3 separate regions of the Homo sapiens genome follow, and regions 1 and 2 are each linked to region 3. The links come from fine-mapping of genetic effects on gene expression. A gene starts in region 3. Each other region holds a variant in brackets. All regions are shown on one strand. Distances are from middle to middle. Region 1 overlaps RPS6KA5 (ribosomal protein S6 kinase A5). Region 2 holds the start of SNORA11B (small nucleolar RNA, H/ACA box 11B). Region 3 holds the start of RPS6KA5 (ribosomal protein S6 kinase A5).

The links. PIP is the estimated chance that this variant, and not a neighbour inherited with it, causes the effect.
Region 1: its variant is fine-mapped to the expression of RPS6KA5 in whole blood (INTERVAL, PIP above 0.99).
Region 2: its variant is fine-mapped to the expression of RPS6KA5 in whole blood (INTERVAL, PIP 0.92).

Annotation. Positions count from the first base shown.
Region 1 is chr14:90,942,201-90,945,046 of GRCh38, forward strand. RPS6KA5 (ribosomal protein S6 kinase A5) reads right to left here. Exons shown (of 17, transcript NM_004755.4): 5 at 878-985. Among named protein-coding and RNA genes, the nearest start is that of LINC02321, 120 kb to the left of the region's middle. The variant C/G (reference allele first, on the strand shown) is at 1,204.
Region 2 is chr14:91,124,996-91,127,790 of GRCh38, forward strand. All of the region lies in intron 1 of DGLUCY (D-glutamate cyclase), which reads left to right. It overlaps SNORA11B (small nucleolar RNA, H/ACA box 11B), which reads left to right and starts at 1,431; the gene lies at 1,431-1,557. The variant C/CTTCTT (reference allele first, on the strand shown) is at 1,409.
Region 3 is chr14:91,059,287-91,061,786 of GRCh38, forward strand. RPS6KA5 (ribosomal protein S6 kinase A5) reads right to left here and starts at 1,355. Exons shown (of 17, transcript NM_004755.4): 1 at 1,046-1,355. The coding sequence starts at 1,148. It also overlaps a transcript of DGLUCY not described here. RefSeq lists silencers at 808-877, 948-1,077, 1,448-1,507, 1,728-1,857 and an enhancer at 1,085-1,665.

The sequences.
Region 1 (2,846 bases), 120 kb before region 3:
CACTCACCTAGGACTGCTTTAGCAATATACTCCAAAAACCAATCAGAAATAGATATACCTAATTTGGAATCCAAGAATGATGTCTTTTATAACAACAAAGTCCTTCACTACAAAAATTTTAGTATGATTTCATATTCTATACCAACAATTTCCTAGATAGAAACGAAACTAACATTCAAATTTACTTAGTTATCTTGAATAACTAGTAGTGCAGAAATAAATGTAACTTCTATTACAACCATTACATAAACAGTACTTAATTACAACTAATAGATGTACAATTTTAAGTGTCATTAAATGCATTTGTAATATTAAACAAATTCTAATTAATACTGAAAATTAAAGTTCTCCAAATGTAAAATCTGCACATTAGCCACCATATTTTAATTCATGTTGAGCAAAAACCAGCAATATTATTTAAAAATTGGGTCTAGTAGATCTCTGTCATTCTTGTCAAGCGAATTCAAAGGGCCTTCATAGCATGTCCTACTTTGTTACCACAATGTAAACTGTATGTACTTTGCTTTATGATTCTTTATTGGCCACTATCAAAGCCATAATTCTCCTGAAGGGCCAAAAGAGTTATTTGATTTTTCAGTTATATTTTACATATTTTATGGGGAAAGTTAAATGCATAGTGTCTTTTTTCTTTTTTAAATAAATAGGAATTCTGATATACCCATCAAGGTTTACCGCAATTTTAACAGGACGGCTCCATACGAATTTTAAACTAAAAATCTCTACATTTTCCATGGACAAATCTGCACAAAAGTTCAGAATTCACAGGGCAGTTTTCTGCTAAATGTTTATTCTACGGCTAAGTTTTCATCCTTGTTTACATGCTGTTATTACTAACTTCAAATTAAAATATACTCACTTCATCAGCCACAAACTCCTTACTCAGACCAAAATCTGTCAGCACCACATGGCCATTAGAATCAAGTAGAATATTCTCAAGCTTAATATCACGATATATAATCCCCAACTGCAAAAACAAAGAAATATAAATTTTAAAATAATTTACAAAAAAATGAATTAGGGCAGTCTTTCTCGTCTACCTTTATTTATTTATTTTTTTTTTTAAGGCATTTCCCTCCTCAGGATCCTGTAATGGCTCTTGGTGATTGGTCAGGGAAAATGGAAATTCTTTTATCTGCTGCGTTCTCTGGACCTCTCCAACCACGTCTTTGTTCTCCTTGTGCA[C/G]AGGGTCTACCTTGTTGGGTCAGCTTCTTTAGGGCCTCCCTCTTGACTCGTGCTTCTTCATGTCTCTATTCTTCCTAGTTCACTCTCACTCTAGATGACCTTCAGGTGCCTTCATAGCCAATTCTTGTCCATCACTTCCTAACGGCTTCAGAAGACTCTCCTGACTAACCAGATCCCCTGTCATTTCCTTGTTTTTCATCCTACAACACCTATGTTTACATTGTACTTACCTATACATGACTGATATTTTCTAGCTATTTCCTACTTGTCTTTATATACCTATACTCTAACTCTTTTTTTCACTTTTTATGTATTTATAGGTATTTGTGCAGCACACCATGTATAAAATAGGAAATTTATAAAGAATTGTTGATTAACAGGCTCTTAAACATAAAGGTTGAAGATCATAGGTTAATTTTACTCAAACTTTAGTTGTTTTTTGTTGTTGTTATTGTTGTTGTTGTTTTGAGATAGGGTCTCACTCTGTCACCCAGGCTGGAGTGCAGTGGCGTGGTCCTAGCTCACTGCAACTTCAAACTTCTGGGCTAAAGCCATCCTCCCACCTCAGCCTCCAGAGTAGCTGGGATTACAGGTGTGAGCCACTGCACTAGGCTCAAACTTTAGTTCTAAATAAGCAAAGAAAATCAATTAAGTAACATTTATAGATCCCTCTGTTTTACTTTGCATTTATAAAACTTACTTTTTTGTAAGTTCTATAGCAAAACACTTCAGCTATATAACAAATAATCTATCCAACTCATATAAGAGGTGCTTGATCTGCATGAATTCTGTTTCATGTTTTCAGTTATGTCAGCCTGAATTAAATGTTTCTAAACTTAGAAATATTGTTTTCCTCAATGCTAAGAATATGAGAAAGTTCTTAATAATCTCTTAAAATGGAAATCAAAATTGCATACAGAAAAACACTAGGGGCCAGGCACAGTGGCTCATGTCTGTAACCCTAGACTTTGGAAGGCTGAGGCAGGAGGGTCACTTGAATCTGGGAGTTCAAGACTAGCCTGGGCAACACAGTGAGACCCATCTCTACAAAAAATTTTAAAAATTAGCTGGGCCAGGAGTGGTGGCTAACGCCCGTAATCCCAACATTTTGGGAGGCCGAGGTGGGCAGATCACCTGAGGTCAAGAGTTCGAGACCAGCCTGACCAACATGGAGAAACCCCGACTCTACTAAAAATACAAAATTAGCCGGGCGTGGTGGCACATGCCTGTAATCCCAGCTACTCGGGAGGCTGAGGCAGGAGAATCACTTGAACCCGGGAGGTGGAGGTTACGGTGAGCTGAGATCGTGCCACTGCACTCCAGCCTGGGCAACAAGAGCAAAACTCCATCTCAAAAAAAAAAAAAATTAGCTGGGTGTGGTGGCACACATGTAGTCCTAGAGCTACTCGGGAAGCTGAGGCAGGAGGATCACTTGAGCTCAGGGTGTTTGGGGCCACAGCAACCTATGATAGCATTCCAGCCTGGGCAACAGAGCGAGACCATATGTCTATTTTTAGACCCAATGTCTCTATTTTTTTTTTTTTTAAAAGAACAGAATAAAAAACGGACAAGTGTGGGTGGCCCATGCCTGTAATTCCAGCAGTTTGGGAAGCCAAGATGGGAGGATCATCTGAGCTCAGGAG
Region 2 (2,795 bases), 66 kb after region 3:
AAGTTACTTCCTCCTTCCTTTGTTCTCCTCTGCCTTTGCCTCTTTTAAAAGGTTCTAAGTTGCCAGCCAATTGGGACAAATACAGGATCTGAGGTCCCATTCCAGCCAATGGAAACTGGACACAGCAGTAGGGTGGACGAGTCAGGTTATAAATGACCCTGTCTCCTTTGTTCTATATACTCATGGGGCACAACTACTGGCGAGTGTACCCTTTCTGCAGAAAGTGTAAAAATGGCCTTGCTGAGGAAATTAAATTTATGTTCAAGTACTATTTCTTTACGGCACCGGGGAACAAGCATTTCAAACACGTACTTGCTGCAGACTCTGCCCTCTGGAATGGCTGCGATCCTGTCTCAAATGGATTTGAGCAGAAAAGGGGAAGTGACTGGCAGAAAAGCCCAGAGATAGATCTGTGTTTAGGTAAGGTTGTTTGTCCAGAGATAGAACTGTGTTTAGATAGGGTTGCTTGTAGGGCCAGGGATGACAGCGTCAAGCCCTGCCTCTTTTTACTCTTGGCTCTCTGCTTTCTTCTCTGTTGGCTTCCTTCTCGAGCCAGCTCTCTCTGTGGGGTGACAAATGACCACTGGCAGCCTATGCTCACATTGTCCCTGTGTCTAGCAGTTTCAGAGGTAAGAAATACTTCTTTCCCGACAGCTATACAAATACAAAGGTTAAGGTTGGGCACAGTGGCTCACTCCTGTAATCCCAACACTTTGGGAGACCAAGGCAGGCGGATCACCTGAGGTCAGGAGTTCAAGATCAGCCTGGCCAAAATGGTGAAATCCTGTCTCTACTAAAAATACAAAAATTAGCCGAGCCTGGGCTACTCAGGAGGCTGAGTCAGGAGAATTGCTTGAACCGAGGAGATAGAGGCTGCAGTGAGCCGAGATCTTGCCACTGTACTCTAGCCTGGGTGACAGAGCAGGACACAGTCTCTAAAAAACAAAACAAAACAAAACAAATTCAAAGGATAACTCTGGTTGGCTAGCTGGGGTCATGTGACCATCCTCAACCCAAGCATTGTGCTAAGGAGGATGGGCTATTTTGATTGTCACCTAGGTCTGAGATAGTGACTGACAGCCCCACTGGGTACTGGGGGACACTTTTCCAATTTGCTGGGCACGTAATGGTTTCTTAGGGCTGCCACAACAAATCCCAACTTACTTGGTGGCTAAAAGCAACAGAAATCTCTTATCTCACAGCTCTGGGGGGTAGGAGTTCTACGTCAATGTATTAGGGGGACTATATTCCCTCTGATGCCTCTAGGGAATGATCCTTCCTTGCCTCTTGCAGCTTCTGTGGCCCCAGGAAATCCTTGGAGTTCCTTGGACTGTAGCTGCGTCACTCCAATCTCTGCCTCCATCTTCACAGGATGGCCCCTTCTGTGTTTCTCCTGTCATGTCTGTGC[C/CTTCTT]TTCTTATAATTACATGTGTTGGGGTGTGCTCAGAGCAGGGGGCCCGAAGAATGCCTCCTCTGTTTACAACACACCCAATAGGAATCTGGGGTCATTGTGACAAGGGACACAGAGCTTGTGACCTCCCTACAAACAAATGCCCTACACATTGAAAAAACAAAAAACGTGTCAGACCAGGTGCGGTGGCTCAGGCCTGTTATCTCAGCACTTTGGGAGGCCAAGGTGGGAGAACTGCTTGAGCCCAGGAGTTTGAGACAAGCCTGGGCAATATAGCAAGACCCCATCTCCACCACACACAAAAAAATATGTTACTGGTTTTAGGGTCCACTCAATTAATCCATAATAATCTCATCTCAAGATCTTTCACTTAATTGCATCTACAAAGACCCGTTTTCCAAATAAAGTCATATTCACAGGTATGGGGTGAGGGTTGGGACTTGGATTTATCTCTTTGGGGGCCACATTCCACCCCCTGTAGGGCAGAAATAAATAGCCACTGCACTCCACCCCTTGACTGCCTGGCATCCATCCATGGCCTTTTCCACATAAACAATTCCAGAAATGCAACACCCCAGTGTGGTACAGGCTGCCCACATCCAAGCAAAGCTGGCCGATGTACATTCTTCTCAGTCAGGCCTTGATGATACTCTTTTTTTTTTTTTTTTTTTTTGAGATAGAATTTCCCTCTGTCACCCAGGCTGAAGTGCAGTGGCACAAGTATGGCTCACTACAGCCTCAACCTCCCAATCTCAAGCCATCCTCCCACCTCAGCCTCCCAAGTAGCTAGAACCACAGGCATGTGCCACCATGCCTGGGTATTTTTTAAATATTTTGTAGAGACAGGATCTTGCTGTGTTGCCCAGGCTGGTCTTGAACTCCTGGCCTCAAGCAGTCCTGCCTCACCCTTCCAAAGTGCTGGGATTACAGGCGTAAGCCACCATGCCAGGACCTTAGTCCATTTTCTGATAACTCTGTGAGCTGCCAACTGGAGCTAGAAACTCAAGTCAAGTCATGCTGTAGAATCTGGACCTTGTCCTCGCTGCACCTGCCCCCTCTACACCCCGTTCTCCCTGAGTCTTCCTTCAGACTGCAGCCTTCTGGCCTCTGCCCCAACACACTGGGCCTGGGCCAGAGGGATGAGGCCGGGCTGTCTGGCCCTTGCCTTCAGGCTGTTTGCGGTTTGGCCAGGCAGGGAACGCCGGGCAGAAGTGGCTGGCAGGGAGCCAGGGGAAACTGCTTCTTCCGGTTTCTGTCCCCTCTCACACTGTGTCGTCCTTCTCCCAGCCTTTACCTGTGCTCCTAGCCTGGGGCAGGGAATCTGACTTTTGCAATCCTGAAATATGATTTTCTGGTTCTCAGCTCAGCTGAATTACTTGCCCCAGGCAG
Region 3 (2,500 bases):
CCGAGATCATGCCACTGCACTCCAGCCTGAGCAACAAGAGCGAAACTCTGTCTGAAAAAAAAAAAAAAAAATCCCAATATGCCAAAGCAGCTCTGTCAAAAACCTTCAACGCTCACAAACATATCTAGTAATAACGAACGACTCATTAAAATGTACTATCTGTTCAGAGAAAAAAGTATTAATATATCTACAATACGAGACTGGGCTCCAAGAATATAAATCCAAATTGTACTGATTGGTCTGAATAAGCATTTTCCAAAATGAACAACCTGAACCTACACCACGAATACATTTAATTAGTTATAAAGCTTAGGACAACGCTAGTGATCTCAAACATTAGAACGTAAGCGCTGAAGCCTGCTCGTTAGTTCCTTTTACCTGGAGCTTTAAATTTCTAAAGCCATCATCTCCAGGGACCTCTGAAGGAAATTCAAGGCCAAGTATAGTATTTCATGATAAGTGAGAATAAAGGCACTCAATCCCTGGAGCCGGCGATTCCTGTTCCTGTCTCTAGACTGGACTCGGTAAAAGCCCGAGGCGAAACCTCCCGTTTATCTCCTACAGGACCCCAGCACCTTAGGGGATGGCTCCACAGAGCCCCACCGGGACCCCCCATCGCGGGGACCAGAGGGGCGGAGGAGGGAGACACTCTCCAAAACAAAGCGCCGCTCGCCCCACGCGGAGGCAGGCGCACCTTTCGCCCTGACAGGACGCAGACACACGTGTGTCACCTGTGCGGGAAGGGGGAGCAGCGACATCCTCGGAGGTGCGTGCCACGGGCAGCGGTCGGCGGCTGCGCTGGCCCCGATGCCTGGTGCCCGCCGCTCATTCCCGGGCTGGGGAAAACTTTCGGCCGCCTCCCCCAAGGCGCGCCCCCACCTCCCGGGACCCCCGGGGCACGCGCCCCGACCGCGACGCCCCGCCCCAGGCCCGCCCCTCCGCGCCCACGGCTGCGGCCCCGCGCCCCCAGCCCCGCGCGGGCACCCGCGTGCCCTCAGGCGCGCCCCCGCGCCGGGCCCGGCCGGCAGAGGGCGGGGTCGCTCACCAGTCCGCAGCTCGTGCTTGACAGTGAGGAGCTGCTCTCCTCCGTCGCCGCCGTCCGCGCTGGTCCCCGCGGCGCCGCCGCTGCTGCCACCCTCCTCCTCCATCTTCTCCTTTTTTTCCGATCCCGCGGGTCGCTACGAGGGGAACCCAGGAGACAGCGGACGCCCGTCCCCTCGCAGCCGCTGCCGCGGCCCCAGGAGTCGGGGTGCGGCGGCTCCAGAACTCGGACGCAAAGACGAGTCTCTTTCCCGCTCTGGCCGCACGGCTCGCTCCTCGCCTCCTCCCCCTTCGGCGGGCACCGCTAGTACCGCGCAACCAAACCGCCCCCTGCTCCACCGCCGCCTCCTCAGGCCGCTCCGCCCACAGCCAGCAAGGTAAGGGAGCCATTCGAGCCGCCTTCGCTGATTGGACACAGGGCGCGCGCGTCTGCCAACGCCGGTTCCCATTGGGCAGTACGCTGTGACGTTTCACGAGCCTCCCCGCCTCGCTCCTCGAATTGTTGTTGCTTGGCGGGGAGGCAGGAGAGGGAGGAGCGCCGCCACTCCGATTGGTGAGACCCAAAGCTCTGCCCCGCCCATTTCCTCTGGTGCGCACTCGCAGTCAAGACCTTCCCTTCCCTGACCTCCCCAGAACGGTCACACCCCTTATTCCCCAGCTTCGATCTGTTAGTAAACAGTGTCTAGTAGTCAGGAGGCGCTCGGGGTCTCTGATTGGCTACTGCCGAAAGAGGCGGGGAGGGATGATTGGAACGTTTGGTCCGCCAATCACCGTGGACAGAGGAGGGGCCTGGAGGGTAGCGCTTATCACCCACGTGTTTGCAGACAAACCTAAGGGTCCCGGCAGCGATCCATGCGTGTGTGACAACCAGCGAGACGGCGTGCCCTAAAAAGGTCTTACTCGCTCTAGTGAACCCTAAACAAGTTAAGCAGAGTGTTTGTTCTTAAATAACAGATAGTTCTTAAACGTTACAAAAATTCACAGTCCCAGCTCCCGATGAGGAATTTTACGAAGGAGAGACATTTCTGTTTCGTACAAGACTCTTACTAGGCGCCGAAAGGATGCAGAGATTAACAAAATAGAATACAATTCCTCCCCTAAGCAGCTTTCAATAGAACGTGAGAAACAATCTGTGTGTGTACACAAAAGAACTATAAAGCAGAATTTGAAATAAAGCAGTCGTACAAAGCGTTAGAGAATCTCGCACGGATGGCAATAATTATTCCCAGACGAGGAACTGGGGAAAGCTTTTAGGGCAAGGAGGCATTTGAGATAACCAACGTAAAGGATGGATAAGAGAGAAATACCAGCAATAGACATTCCACACAGAGAGAGTAACTGTGAGCATTGGCCTACAGCAGAGAAGGCAAGGGTGGGTTAAGTGATTGATAAGGTTAGATGAAAGTATGATGTAAGAGATACAGCTGACAAGGTGAGGTGTGGTAAGATAATGGGGAAC